Linked DNA regions of Homo sapiens: region 2 is linked to region 1. Evidence: fine-mapped expression QTL. Tissue or cell type: monocytes after LPS. Region 1 holds a variant in brackets; the other region holds the start of a gene. All regions are shown on one strand. Distances are between the middles of the regions.

What was found. PIP is the estimated chance that this variant, and not a neighbour inherited with it, causes the effect.
Region 2: FCRLA starts here. The variant in region 1 is fine-mapped to the expression of FCRLA in monocytes after LPS (Fairfax 2014, PIP 0.91).

Annotation. Positions count from the first base shown.
Region 1 is chr1:161,729,550-161,737,655 of GRCh38, forward strand. It overlaps the pseudogene RN7SL466P. Among named protein-coding and RNA genes, the nearest start is that of FCRLB, 12 kb to the left of the region's middle. RefSeq lists an enhancer at 6,552-6,661. The variant C/T (reference allele first, on the strand shown) is at 4,186.
Region 2 is chr1:161,703,908-161,712,013 of GRCh38, forward strand. It overlaps FCRLA (Fc receptor like A), which reads left to right and starts at 3,322. Exons shown (of 5, transcript NM_032738.4): 1 at 3,322-3,436; 2 at 6,853-7,005; 3 at 7,301-7,567; 4 at 8,027-8,106. The coding sequence starts at 3,358. RefSeq lists enhancers at 1,858-2,077, 3,618-3,797.

The DNA.
Region 1 (8,106 bases):
CATCAATATGTCTAATCTGAGGAAATGCTAACTTAAAATTAGACAAGAAGAATCAAACTTATCTCAGTGGATCTTTGCTTAACTCTGAGAGATATGTCCAGGTGCCTATAATTCAGTTCTGGGGTCTTGGTCTACAAGGGCCTTTGTGGCTCTGATTTCCAGCTTTCTGATGCAGGCTCATCTCACTTCTCAGAACTCTCTTCCAAGGCCACCTTTCCTAGCTAACTGCACTCTATTTCAGTGCCCAGGCTCTTTTCCCCTTCTGATTTTGTTTCCCTGAGATTTCTGCTTTTTTTTTTTTTTTTTTTTTTTGAGACGGAGTCTCACATCTCACTCTGTCACCCAGGCTGGAGCAATCTCAGCTCATTGCAACCTCCGCCTCCCAGGTTCAAGTGATTCTTCCACCTCAGCCTCCCCAGTAGCTGGGATTACAGGCACCTGCCATCATGCCAGGCTAATTTTTGTATTTTTGTAGAGACGGGGTTTCACCGTGTTGGCCAGGCTGGTCTTGAACTCCTGACCTCAGGTGATCCACCTGCCTCAGCCTCCCAAAGTGCAGGGATTACAGGCTTGGGCCACCGCGCCCGGCCGGTTTCTGCCATCTTGATATAGACAGGAAGTGACTAACATTAGTGGCAAGAGGCTTAGTAATCAAAGAATCTCAGGTCATTTAAAAAATCAGTTGATCATTTTTTAAGAGTACAAAAAAGAGAAATAGTTACTCAAAGGAGAGCTAGGGCAGCAGTATCTCTTTCATTCACACCTTTTTGGCAACATCAACATCCTTGTTCTTGTTTTGCCATCTACTTCCATTTAGAACTAGGATGCGGGGGGATGGGGAAGAACAAGGACTTTTTGGTGAGAGTGAAAATCATTCATGACTCAACTTTCTGGTGTAGGGGAGAGGAATTGACTCATATGGCCTGTAGACTCCACTGTCTTCTTCGTGTACCCCAGCTTTTAAGAGGAGGGCAGGATCAAGATGATCTTCTAAGATATCTGTTATTGATCTCCCAGGAAGACCTGCATTAAGGAAATATCAGCTTCATCTTCATCCCTTTTGTTTGAGGTTCCTACATGCATTTAGGGAAACCAGAAGGCTAGCTAGCCCAGGTTGTCCAAGGGGACTCTCAGAGCTCATTCCCAAACAGCAGGGATGGCAGAAAAATGCTGGAGAAACCTAGGGAGGAATCTGCTTCTCTCTGATACTCTGATCAGTTTGGTGTCTCAGACTTAGGCTGCAAACCCTAATCCTGCGGCTGTCCATAGCAGATGCCAGACAAGGAACCCCAATGTCCGCTATCAGAGAGCAGAAAAAATTCTGTCGCATTCCCTTTGGATTTCAGCCTTACTCTTTAAACTGTTCTCCTTGAGTCTCAGTTTTTACTTGACCTTACACTATGAAAGGGGGATCTCTTTGGGTTTGTAAACCAAAATTAAAATTCTAAGCCCCCCCAATAGACTGAATGGACCCCCCTCACAACCAAGAAGATTTCAAAGAAACCTGAAAAACCAGTTTAGTCCACGAAGGGAAGTGGGGGATTGGACATGCCTAATTATACCCTCCCCCTTTTGGAGTTTAGCACAACTGACCAGCATAACATTAAAATAGAGATCCTAAGACTGACAGAACTGACTATGTAGCAATAAGATACCAACTCCAACCTGACTCTGAAAATCAAAGTATTTTACCCCAAACTATATTTCTTTGACATATTTTGAAATGGCCCTGCAACGTTGTCTCTTGTGGGGGAAATTTACATTCCGTAGAGAATCCTCTTCCCTCTCCAGGTCTTTTCCTGATCCAGAAGAGATGTAACTAAGAGTCTGACATCTTTTAAGGTCAGATAAGAGATATTCACTATCTATTCTCTCTGAAGTCTGGAGGTTTCACCTACATGAGAATAACCTTGGCTTCCAGAACCGCTCCCTTCCCTTAACTCAAGCTGACTTCAATTCTTCAGGCATAGCTTATCTCTTTCAACGAATTGCCAGTCAGAAAATCTTTGAATCCACCTATTACCTAGAAGTCGCCCCCTCAACCCGACTTTGAGATGTCCTGCCTTTCCAGGCCAAGCCAATGTATACCTTACATGTATTGATTTATGTCTTTGTTTGTAACTTCTGTCTCCCTAAAATGTATAACACCAAGCGTAGCCCAACCAAATTAGGCACATGTTCTGAGGAATCCCTGAGGCTGTATCACGGGCTATGGTACTTAACCTTGGCAAAATAAACCTATGAACTGATTGAGACCCGTCTCAGATGCTTTTTGGTTTATAGGTTTCACACTCATGGCTTTTTTCCTAAGAGATTGAATTAAATTCTCTAGGTTAAAGTCCAAACTTCCCATCACAGTATATTGAGCCCATTCATCATATATTATGGCCACAATGACCACCTGCTCTTTCCCCAACACACCACCACCTTTCATGACTTTATTTTTGTATATATTTTTGCTTCAACTGTTGTAGAAGGGCTGCACAGGCCTTCTGAGCCCAAGATTCCTCATTTGCAAAGTGAGGGAAATAATAGTAACCTCACAGGGAGAGACAAACAAACAGATCCTTTCATCATTAGAGGTTTTAAAACAGTTGATGATAAGAAGCACAGAGGAGAGATACTAAGCCCAGTGTGGGGGTCCAGGAATCAACTTCCTGCCAGTCCCCACCGATAAGCTATTTGTTTCTAAACTTGTGCTGTTTTAAATTATGTTGCAATGAATATCTTTACATCTGTATCTTTACGCACATATCTGAATATGTCTGTAGGATAAACTCCTAGAAGTAGAATTGTTGCATCGAAGGATATGTGTCTTTTTAGAATTTTAATAGATGTTGCAAATTATTTCTCAAAGAGAATGTACCAATTTGTGCTTCTACTAATTATGAAGGTGAAAGCTTGTTTCTCTTACCTTGGTCAAGAGAGCATATCATTGTACTTTTATTTTTTAATTAAACCCACGAAAACCTTTTGACTATCCAGTGTTGAGTGTCCCTAGTCAGATCCCGATAGATTTACTATCCTGTGCCATACAGCAGTCCAGTGGTACAGTCCCCCAAGGGTCAGTGCACTTATTTGTAATGCTAACCCATCCAACTCCTGAATTCCTTGCTAGCTGTTCTGTAGTTAGCTCAAAGAACTGCACTTCTGACTGTAATTCCTTATTAAATACCCGTTTTCTGTCCATTAGAGCTCTTATTCCAAGCTAGATCATTGTAGTCCTTCGCGAGATTTTCAGCATGTACTATAGTTAGCCCATATTGGTTTAGTTTGTTCCCTAGTCACTCTACCTGCAAAGATAATTGGTTTCAATGTTTGACATTCTACTTATAATGAGAATCCTCATATAAATGTACACGCCTGATAGAGCTGAGACTAAAAAATTGGTACAACACACTACTGTCTTTTTCAGTTCAAAGGCGTCAGTCTCACTGCAGTGTGGGAGATGATCATTCTCTCATCTCTTAACAGTAAATATACCCTAGTGCATCATGTTAAGTTGTAATAGCCAAGCTAATTAGCTTTGGACCTAGAGATGGCAGAGTTGTATAAAGTTAAGAGTCTTGGCTCAGGAGTCAATAGACTTGGGTTCGAATGTTGCTTTTACTACTTAACAGCTGTGTAGCTTTGGGCAAGATACATTGTCTCTGAAATTCTGTTTCCTCTTTTGTAAAACGGAATGATAATAGTACATGCCTATAGAATTGCTAGAAGGATTAAATGAGATTTGTAAGTAGTACATCTAATACATAAGAAGCAGTAAACTGTTATTATGACTGTAATTCATTGAATCTAAAATGATATTAATTATAGGATACACCATTAAAGAAAGCATAAGAAAAGGGAAAACATGGCTAAATAACTACACAATGTCTTTTAGACTTAATTAAAATAGACTTATAAAATCATAAATAATGAATAAACAGGGAAACATATGTGAAATAAATTGGGTAAGATACTTCTAAAATGTTTTTACATTCAGATTCTGACTTTTCTGAATCACTTTCCAACTCATATTTATCAGTGCCCATGTTTCCTCACTCCTGTGACATCTTTTCTATGAAAATCATGGGAAGTGCTGCATTTCTTAAAGGAAGTCATAAAAAAGTAACAGTCGTTGTTGCCAGACTTTTAAGCTGGTTTTATAATTATCTGGAGCTAACTTGCTTTTGACTTCTGCTC[C/T]AGGAATGTTGCTACACAAGTCTGATTCACCACCCACCCCATTTTTCCCACAACTAACAGTTGCTTCACTGTTGTCTCTAGAAATTTTCTCCAAGCTGCTTACACCATTTTGTAAATTTTGATGCTGGTATTTTAATGTTCATATAAGCAATGAAAACTATAACAAGACAGCAATTATTAGATACATCATGATTTCAGAGATGTTAAAACATTGTTTAAAAAAGTCTTAGAATATATAAAATAAAATAAAAAATCCTGAGCTCTAGGCAAACAAACTTCAAAATGTCTAGGAAAAAAAGTTACATATAGTCCTACATGTGGCCAGAGACTAAAGGTGGACATCTTTCAGGATGAATTGGAGGTCCTCAAAAAATCTGAAGGGGAAAGTAAAGACTGTTTAGTTCAACCAAGAAACCATTTATTGAGATGCTTCAGGCTGGGCATGGTGGCTTATGCCTGTAATCCCAACACTTTGGGAGGCTGAGGTGGGCAGATCACCTGAAGTCAGGAGTTTGAGACCAGCCTGACCAACATGGTGAAAACCAGTCTCTACCAAAAATACAAAATTAGTGGGGCATGGTGGCACGCACCTGTAATCCCAGCTACTTGGGAGGCTGAGGCAGGAGAATTGCTTGAACCTGGGAGGCGGAGGTTGCAGTGAAGCGAGATCTCCCCATTGCACTCCAGCCTGGGCAACAAGAATGAAACTCCGTCTCAAAAAAAAAAAAAGAGATGCTTCTAAATTTTTCCTGCCATGTGGCCACGCAGCTGTGCTTGACTTTTTGTGAGAATGTGGCCTTCCATTACTTCCCAAGGAAAGCCCACTCTTATCTTTGGACAGCTCTAGAAATTAAAAAGTTCTTCCTTACTATAATGAGCAAAATGATTTTGTTGTAACTTCTACTCACTGTACCCCCTTGTGTTACACAGAACAAATCTAATTTCTGGCCCTCTTGACAGGCCTTCAGATAACTAAAGACACTGCTTAGCTCATGCCTATGTTTTCTTAAAGGTATACTATTTCATTCGAATTTTTTTTTCCTCAGGGTTTTTAACTTTTTCAAATTTGGAATTCCTTCTCCATCCTGGCCTTTTTATTTTTATTTTTATTTTTGCTGTTAACCTATTTTTATTTTGTTTTATTTTTATTATATTTTAAGTTCTGGGGTACATGTGCAGAACGTGCAGGTTTGTTACATAGGTATACATGTGCCATGGTGGTTTACTGCACCCATCAACCCGTCATCTGCATTACGTATTTCTCCTAATGCTATCCCTTCCCTACCTCCCTAGCCCCCAACAGGCCCCAGTGTGTGATGTTCCCCTCCCTGTGTCCATGTGTTCTCATTGTTCAACTCCCACTTATGAGTGAGAACATGCGGTGTTTGGTTTTCTGTTCTTGTGTTAGTTTGCCGGGAATGATGGTTTCTAACTTCATCCATGTCCCCCCAAACCACTCGTTTTTTAAATAGCATATCTCCAGTTTTAAAATTTGGGACCCATGACTTACTTACCATGTTCCTCAGATGGATGTGTCCAGGGAGAATACGGCAGGAAGGCAGGGTTTTATTTTTATTTTGTACAATTAAACAATTGTACTTGTGACAGGATGTCAGAAATGATATTTCAAGATACAGTGGACATGAAATTCTGAAGCTGGATCATCATATGAAGAATTTACAAAGGAAATGGTTGAGGATCTATCTGTTCCTTGACTTTTGGACTCTGAAATCATGTCAAGGGATAAAAAGGGGCCAGGATATGGAGAGGAGAGAGGATCTGTGAAATGATTTATTTGCCATATTTCCCCTTCATAGTGGGGAGGCATGGGAAGCTTACCTCCTCATTCTCAAGCCTAATGAGAAAGATACCCATGGAATCACCCAGGTAGGTCTGAAATGTATTCTCTGCAGTAGGGAGATACAGGGAACTGGGCCTGACTTAGGCTTGAGAAAGTTAAAGTGAGCTATGGTGGTAGGATAGAAGAGCCTATTTTAGGATTAGCCAGCCCTACAAAAGATCCAGGAGCCACATCTATATATATTTCTGTGGCCTATGAAAAACAGAGTGCTTGCTGGGCACAGTGGTGCATGCCAGTAGTCCCAGCTCCTCAGGGGGCTGCAGTAGGAGGATCGCTTGAACCCAGGAGTTCTGGGCTCTAGTGCACTATGCCCATTGGGTATTCATACTAAGTTCGGCATCAATATGGTGATCTCCTGGGAGCAGGGGATCTCTAGATTGCCTAAGGAGAGGTAAATGGCCCGGGTGAGAAATGGAGCAGGTCAAAACTCTGTGCTGACTAATAGTGAGATAGCACCTGAGAATACCCACTGCACTCCAACCTGGCCAACACAGAAAGACACTGTGTCTTTATAAAAAGAAAGAAACAATAACAATAAAATTAAGAAGAAAGAGACCTAGTATGGGGTTGCCTTGGTTCCTGTACTATAGGGTCACCAGGAGGGGCAGATAAAGGCACCAAAAAGCTGGAGTTGCATCTATATTCCTAGGGGCAGAGGAAAGAGGTGCACTGGAACACCTGGAGGAGAGATGCATCTGCCTTGAGCACAACACCCTAAGGAAACAATTCCCAGAAATAAACATCCAAAAAGTCTACAAAAATGCTCATGGGAGAACAAGTTAGCTTTAGCCACCTGTCAAATTCAGAGAGTAGAAAGCAGCTCAGCCAAATAACTTTCTGTTCCCTTACCTATTCTCCCTTTCTTCCCTCTGCTCTCCTACTTTGGCCTACGTGAGAAGCAAACAGACGCTAATGAGAGGAGGAGGGGATGTGGAGAGAGAGAGAGAGAGGGAGAGAGAGAGAGAGAGAAACACCAATCAAGTCCCTTCCCCAAGTCAACACCTTAAATGGATAAGTAAGAAGACAGACTTACCTTTGGATAAAGACTGGAGGTCTGATTAACATCTAGAATGGGCATCCTGATTTAGAAATTGAAACTATACTTGTAGCCTAAAGTCATTATAAGACTCTCCATTACCTAAAGAAGCAGAAAAATCATGGCTATTTGCAAACTTTAATGTACACATGAATCACCAGGGCGCTGGGTGATTCATGTGTACATTAAAGTTTGCCAATATCCACGGCAAATGCAGATTGTGATTCAGTGGTCTGGGGTGGGGCCTGAGAGTCTGCATTTCTGAGAAGCTTCTAATTGATGCCAATGTTGAAGGTTCTTGGGCCACACTTTGAGTAGCAGGGTGCTGTGAGCCAGGGAGGATTACCCACACTGAATACATTTTAAATTGATTTTGAAAGATAAAAGAGCTACATTTTGATCAGGTAATGAATTGTGCTTTTAACATACAAGTTACACTTTATTTAATTTTTCAAACATTATTATGAATATAGTCTATTTGAAAACTTCATACTGTATTAAAAAAATGTTAAGCCTATTTTTCTTGCCATCCTCCCACCCACTCCCTCAGTGGGTTATAGATGTAACCACTATTTAACAATTTGATGTGCACTCTTCCAGGCCTTTTATTTTAAAAAAGAGCTTTTTAAGTATATTATTATATTGATCAGGATTCAATTTCAGAGAACAGAATTAACTCTAGCTGGATTAAGGAGGAAGGAATTTATTACACAGTATTTAATAGCTTACAAAATGGTTGGGAGAGATGAAGAGACAGACTGTAGTTTGTGTTCTCAGCAAAGTTTCCCAATATCAGTTCAACAAGGGAGTTGCTGCCTCTTCTGAGATCAGAAATTTGCCAGCCTTGGGTCACACAGCCATTGCTATGATTAAGAAAACAGTCACGATAGAAGAGACACTGCTATTGCTACGGTGCCAAGACCATACCTGTCTTCTATGGTCCAAGGAATGGATGCTCAGGGCCCTGCCCCTAGCAACACAAAGCTAGATCCTGGACACTAGGTAGGTACTATTGCTGGTAAAG
Region 2 (8,106 bases), 26 kb before region 1:
AAGAAAATTCCATTCATATATGTACCTTCGAGAAACTCTTATAATAACAAATTATGTACATGAATAGATGCATGGTTTTTGACAGCAAAAACCTGAAAATAACTCACATGTCCATTGTCAATAGAATAATTTGTGACATGATCACATGATGAAATACTTCACAGCAATACAATTAGTTAACTATAGCTACACAGAACATCAGGTTGTATTTCAGTTGAGTTAAACGAAAGCAAGTTGGCTGGGCAAGGTGGCTCACCCCTGTAATCCCAGCACTTTGGGAAGCCGAGGCAGGTGGATCATGAGGTCAGGAGTTCGAGACCAGCCTGGCCAATATGGTGAAACCCCGTCTCTACTAAAAATACAAAAGTTAGCCGGGTGTGGTGGCACACGCCTGTAGTCCCAGCTACTCAGCTACTCGGGAGGCTGAGGCAGAAGAGTCGCTTAAACCCGGGAGGTGGAGGTTTCAGTGAGCTGAGATCAAACATACTGCACTCACTCAACAGAGTGAGACTCCATCTCAAAAAAAAAAAATAGAGAAAGCCTTAGAATGATAAATACAGTACAATTCCACTTACTAAAAGTTCAAAAATACAAAATGATTACTACATAAAATAAAGAGAGTGATAAATATAAGGTAAAGATTGTGGTTGATGATGGTGGGGAGGGAAGACAGTGTAATCGGACAGGGATCTATGCAGTACTTCAAGGATAACAGTACTAGTCTGTTCCTTCAACCATATAAGGTTTCAAAAGTATACACTGCATTATTTTTTACACCTTCACATTTTTAATAAATATTTTTATCTACTCAATTAAAAATAAAGAAGAGATAAGCATTAGTCCACTAGTGACAAGCCAGGAATGGCAAAGGAGGGCATCCACCACCTAATTGGTCTTGGGATGGGATGAGAGCTGGGATTTGTCCCATCTCCCCCTGAGTATTCTGAGGTGATCCTGATGGAGGAACTTACTCAATAAACCGAATCTCAGTCTCCATGAACAAACAGCAGACCCAATGTTGCTTTTTCCTCGCAGTGAATCACATCTATTCTAAATAGTTCATTGATTAAGCTTCAAGCGAGTAAATTTTCCCAGCAGCTTAATGGAAATTTCAGTGTAAAGAACTTGATAGCTTCACCCCAAATCTTCAGAAGGCCCCTTGCCTTCCATATTGACAGTGGGGTCCTGCAAGGATTGCTGCAGATGGTATAGGGGAGGGTCTCTATCCAGGTAAGATGCTATGGTAAGGACAGTAAAGGAGAAAGGGTGACATAAGAAGAGAAAGATATCATGATTTGTTTAGAAGCCCCTTAGCCTCTGCCTAACCCTGAGGGTCTATGTTTTATGTAGTTTTAGGAGTGGCGATGCATCTAAACACATTTTATTTGTTTAATTCGTACACCTGTAATCCAGCACTTTGGGAGGCCGAGGTGGGCAGATCACGAGGTCAGAAGATCAAGACCATCCTGGCTAACAGGGTGAAACCCCATCTCTACTAAAAATTCAAAAAATTAGCCGGGCGTGATGGCACGCTCCTGTAGTCTCAGCTACTCGGGAGGCTGAGGCAGGAGAATGGCTTGAACCCTGGAGGCAGAGGTTGCAGTGAGCCGAGATCGCGCTACTGCACTCAAGCCTGGGCAACAGAGACTCCATCTCAAAAAAAAAAAAAAATTATTAAGGCTAGCTAGGCTTTTCTTCCTCTTCTGAGGCTTCACATCACATCAGCTGCAAGGCTTACTGCCTCACTGCCTTCCCCAGCACCCATATTCAACCACCCCTGGACTCCCTGGGGCCACCTGCACAGAAGCGTATGCCTCTCGATAATGGAAATTTTATTCTAAATGCTTATTTTAGACTCAGAAAGATCCACTCTCTTATGCCCGTGTGGTTGATATGTCTGCTCTGACCTGTGGTTTTTGCACAGTTGAAGGGTCATACTGTCCCTCTCTCTGCCTTCAAGGAGGACCAAACTACCTTCCCCCATTTCTCTCTCTCTCTTTTTTTTTTTTTTTGTGAGATGGAGTCTCGCTCTGTCACCCACACTAGAGTGCAGTGGTGCAATCTTGGCTCACTGCAACTTCTGCCTCCTGGGTTCAAATGATACTCATGCCTCAGCCTCTGAAGTAACTGGGACTACAGCCATGCACCACCATGCCCATCTAATTTTTTTTTTTTTTTTTCAGTAGAGATGGGGTTTCACCATACTGGCCAGGCTGGTCTTGAACTCCTGACCTCCAGTCCAGTGATCCGCCCACCCTGGCCTCCCAAAGTGCTGGGATTACAGAGGCATGAGCCACAGTGCCTGGCCTACCTTACCCCATTTCTGATGGCTCATTTCATCTCCAAATAACCTACTGGAGGCCTGGTGGGTGTTATGATGACAGAAAGGGGAGGAATGTGGCCACTGTGAAAAGACACATGGGCCCTACCATTAAGTAGGCCTCAAACAAATAGCAAACATTCAGAGGCAGGGACAATGGTTCCCAGGAGGCCATCTGGAACGGAAGGGAGAGGCTGTAGCCTCTATATTGCTCCTATTCCTGAGTCTCCTCAGGTTTCTCAAGATATCGGATGCCTCCTATCTCTAATTTCCTCAGGATCAGTGGCCTGAGCTTTGGCTATGAGCCTAAGCCCTGAGCTGACTGCTGGATCCTCTGGGAATAGATTTTCTTTTTCCTCTACTCTTTCCCAGTGGATTCTCCCTGCCTTGTACTCATATTTCCACTGAGACTGAGCAGACTTAGTCATGCTCCAGAAATAGAGAGCTGACACGAGTCTAGAGAAATTTGCATGCAAATTTGTGTGGGCTTTGGATAGTCAGAGCCTACTAGAGACTAATCTGATATCTAACTTGGTGCCGTGACTAATCTTCCTTCTCTGTCTCGCTACCTTCTAGTCACTAGAAACATATAAGTGTTGGAATGGGCAGGACATTTGAATTCTCATCATTGATTCTCCAGTGATTTTCTATTGGCCTTCAAACAACATCCCACCTTCTGTCCCCAGTTGCATCACCAGTGAAAAGGGTGGTTGTTGCACTGACCTTTCCCAGAGTGTACATGAAGGCCAGCTGGCTATCAGACAATGACATGCTTTGACAGGCCCCTGAGCTCTGTGAGTAAATTCTTGAACAGCTGAGAGTGCTACCATTTTGTCATAGCCCTAAGGGTGCAGATGATGCTGAAAGCGTGTTGGCCAAATCTGAATGATGAAAGCCAATTACAAACTAGAAAATGAAAACAGACCCCAGATGCAAGGAGATGAGACAGTTAAATTTACTTCCTCTTTTCTAATCTGAGAGGTTTCATGTTGAAGAAAATCAGTGTTGGGGTTGCAGGAGACCTAAACACAGTCACCATGAAGCTGGGCTGTGTCCTCATGGCCTGGGCCCTCTACCTTTCCCTTGGTGTGCTCTGGGTGGCCCAGATGCTACTGGGTAAGTAAAATATTTGAATATTGGTGTGGGAATGGAGCTTTGCTTACCTTGGGAGAAAGGACCAGAAGGAAAGAAACATGGACTAATTCTGGCCCTCCAAAGAAGCAGTATTCAGGTGGAATAAGAAGGGTAGGTATAAGAAAGTTTGGTGTACAGGATTGAATTACTTTCTGAATATAAAAATCTTCCATCCTGAAAGTCCCCTCTGATCATGATATCCTCTCTAGCTCTAATCTCAACTCTTTTCTTTCACTTGTGAGACAAGTTTTCTTAAAAGAATAGTTTGCACTTGCTATCTCCACTTCCTCACTTCTCACACGCTCCTCAATGCTTGCAGCCTGGCTTCCACTGGAATTGGTTTTGTCTAGGGCACAACGATCTCTATATTGACTGGGTTATGGCATGCTTTTCAGTTCATATCCTGCTGGACTTCTCTGCTGCACTGGGCTCTGTTGATCACTTACTCCTTCTTGCATTCTCTACTACCCTGGCTTCCATGGCACCATTTTCTCCTTGTACTACATGGACTTCTCTTGATCCCTTAATAGCTTCTCTTCTCTTCCCCTTAAACACTAGTGTTCTCTATAGTTATAGCCTTGCCTCTGTACTCCTCTTTCTTTACACAATCTCCTTCATGAGCTTATTTGTCTGTTTAATTTTTGCCACTATAACTCTGTATTTAAGAGTCCCAAATCATATCCCCAACCCTAACCATGCTTTTGAGCTTCACATTCAAATATCAAGCTTCATACCAGACATATCTACCTACATATCTCACAAGTGTCTCTGCACCATGTGACTAGAGTTGAACTTATCTGTCCTTTTGGCCCCTGCCTCATCTAATTCATTTTCCACTTTCTGATCTCAGCTAATGACACCAGCATCTACCCTTACAAGGCCATAAACCTCAGAAACAACCCAGACTCTTCCTTCTTTTTCATTCTCTAAATCTGATCAATCATTAGGTTTGGCCAATTTTACCTTCTAAATTGTTCATAGAAGCAGTCCCTTGCCTGGATCATCACTAATGTCTTAGGACAAGCCCTCATCCTCTATGACTTGGGCTATTCCAGTAAATTCCTAACTAATCTCCTCGTCCAAACCTTGTGTTCTTGAAATGAATTCTGTACCCTGCAGACAGAGTAATTTCTAAAACTCAAGTTTACCAGCCCAAATTCTTTATCATGGCACAAAAGGCCAAGCAGCCTCTACTTTTACCCTCTCAGCCTTGTAACTTATGCTCTAATAAATCTCAATCAGTTCATATTTACATACTCACACACCAGACTCTTGCCTGTCTCTAAGGCTTTGCTTATACCACTATCTCTACCTGAAATGAGTTCTTTCCATGGCACCCTACTCTCCTTCTCCTTGCAAATGTGTAGGTACCCCTAAAGACTCAGCTTAAATGGTATCTTTTCCAGGTAGCTTTTCTTGAATGCTTCTTTCTGCTCCAATGGCTGCTTGCGATACATTTTTCTTATTATAATATTTTCCTACTTATGCTGAAATAATATTTTCATCTACCTGTGTCTTCCACTAAATTGAGAGCTATTTGTGGGTAGTGACAATGTTTTTTTGTTTTTGTCTTGTGATAAGAACTGCAGACTTGGAATCAGATACTCCTGTTTCAAGCCCCTCTTCTATTTACCAGCTCTATGTCACTTTAGAAAATCACTTTTTCTATTTCTGGTTCAGTTTTCTCATTTGTAGAATGAAAATAATAATACCTACCACCTAAGGTTTATTGAGTGAGTTCCCAGTAACCCAACAAGATTTTATTTTATTTTATTTTATGTTTTGAGACAGGGTCTCGCTCTGCCACCCAGGCTGGAGTGCAGTGGTGCAATCACTGCTCACTGCAACCTTGACCTCTTGGGCTTAAGCAATCGTCCTATCTCAGCCTCCCAAGTAGCTGGGACCACAGGCAAGTGCCACCAGGCCTGGCCAATTTTTTAAAAAATTATTTGTTGAGACAGGGTCTCTCTATGTTCCCCAGGCTGGTCTCAAACTCCTGGGCTCAAGGGATCCTCCCACCTCAACCTCCCAAAGTGCTGTGATTATAAGCATGAGCCACCACGCCTGGATAAGATTTTATTTTTAAAAAGAAAAAATGGAGAGGAGGCAGAGCACAGATGAGTGACAGTGGAGGAACTGAAAAGAGGTAGCATTACAGTGAAGGGAGCGGAGAAAGGATGGAAAGAAAACACCTGGTACTGATGTGATGAGAATTAGGAAGTAGGGAGGGGTCTTGGTAAGGGACATGACAAAATCAAAGAAGAACGCTGGGCTATTGGGAGTGGAAGAGAATAAAGGCAAGTGGGGCACGAAATGACAGTCAGATGGAGTGAAGAAGTATGCACATGTGAATGGCCATGAGGCTGGAGGAGGGGGAGAATAGTTAGGGAGATAAAGAGCAGTCCCAGAGAAGGGAGAAATGTCACTTCCCTTGCCTAGGTCTACCATGAAGGTAAGAGATAGGTTGAGGAGATGTGGTGAGAAATGGATAATTCTAAATTTCAATCTGGAGCAAAGAATTGTTCCACAGTTACTAATATGGACTGGGAGGAGGGGAAAAAAGACAGAGAAAGCTCTGTGCCACTGCCAGGGAAAATTCAAGTGGCAGAGGACATTAAAGTAAAGATGGCTGAAAAGTGAAGACCTGCAAGGGGGAGGAAGAAAGGAGGAGAGACACTGCTGGGTACTGAAAGCTCTTTGTTAGATAACATATTCAAGGCTGAGGAGCCAAGTGAAGTTTGGGAAAATCAGAATATGAAAGAAAGTCCCCGAGGAAGGTCTGAGGACTGAAGTAGACCATATTTGCACAGTGAAGTAAAAAGAACATTGATTTTGGACTCAGACACACCTGCCTTTCCCGATCCATTGCTTAGTCTCTTTTTAAGCTTTGGGTATGTTAATTTGGTTTTCTAAGTGTGTTTCTTTAAGATTATAAAATGAGGATAAAGTCACCTACCTGGAAAGTTTGTGAGGATGAAGTTAGATACTGCACACAAGTGCTAGCAGGGTCTGGCACCCAGTGAACATTAGAATCTGATGTCTCCCTTTCATTCCTGTCCTATGCCTCCCTGCTTCGAGTTACCATTGTCTTTGCTCCTGGTTTCCCGTACCAGCAGCTGGATGTCATGCCGGTGAGTTTCACCATTCTTTCATTCTCTCCCCTCCCTCTTCTCCAAACCACAGTGCATTTGCTGAGAGCACCTGGACGCCAGTGAATCAAGGTCAAAACTATCCCCCTGAGACACTCTCAGGGGTCTTTCCGAAAAAAAAAAAGGTTTTGATGTCTTACTAGTCTCATTCTAAAAAGGATGATTATCCTGGGAGATGGAGGAACCCTGTCCTCTTTCTCCAAGTTGCATCATCATTTTCTGGTTCTCCCTGGGCCATGCCCTCTTCAGCTGCCAGTTTTGAGACGCTGCAGTGTGAGGGACCTGTCTGCACTGAGGAGAGCAGCTGCCACACGGAGGATGACTTGACTGATGCAAGGGAAGCTGGCTTCCAGGTCAAGGCCTACACTTTCAGTGAACCCTTCCACCTGATTGTGTCCTATGGTGAGGTCCTGGGAAGGCCTGAGCAGTGCCCCAAACCCCTTCTTTCAGCCTCAGAGCCCACCCAGGAAAGTGTCCCTAGGAAATTGGCTATGGGATGAGGTACTTCCTTCCCAGTCTTCAGCCCACAGCAACCAGGGTGCTCTAAGTCCTAGGCCCTAGGGAAGTTGTCCCATACTCCCAACCAGGGGTGAGAGTTTACCTGGACCCTCAGAGAAAGTTTAGGGGAGTAGGCATGCTTGGGGGTGGCCCCCAAGGGAGGCCCTGGGTGACACTCAGCTCTTTCTCTGGACCATAGACTGGCTGATCCTCCAAGGTCCAGCCAAGCCAGTTTTTGAAGGGGACCTGCTGGTTCTGCGCTGCCAGGCCTGGCAAGACTGGCCACTGACTCAGGTGACCTTCTACCGAGATGGCTCAGCTCTGGGTCCCCCCGGGCCTAACAGGGAATTCTCCATCACCGTGGTACAAAAGGCAGACAGCGGGCACTACCACTGCAGTGGCATCTTCCAGAGCCCTGGTCCTGGGATCCCAGAAACAGCATCTGTTGTGGCTATCACAGTCCAAGGTGAGAGCTAGAAGCAGCATTGTCATGGCAGGGGAGGGTAAGGAGAGACAGGGAGCCCAAATTGTCTTTCTTTAGCCTGGAGGTAGCAAGATCATCAACAGACTATGGAGCAGGTTGCTGGCAAATGCCCAAGTTGGGCTTCGAAAGGGACGAGACCTCAGCCTTTTGAAGTCATCCAGCCCCACTCAGAGTCCAGCATAGTTCCTACCACCCAGATCTATGCTTCCTAGTGCTCACTGATTGGGTGTCTGGACAACTATCAGATTTGCCCATCTGTGGATCTTTCCTAGTCCTGTCTACTTACAGAAAGAACTTGACAGATTCAAATGGAATCTAAGAGAGCCCATTCCTGCTGGAAACAGGGGAAAGGAAGTATGACTCCCCAAGTCTCTTCACCTGCATGTGTCTACCTGTATATAAGATGGCTGAGCTCTTCTTTCCTGCCTATCTTTTTCCCAGAACTGTTTCCAGCGCCAATTCTCAGAGCTGTACCCTCAGCTGAACCCCAAGCAGGAAGCCCCATGACCCTGAGTTGTCAG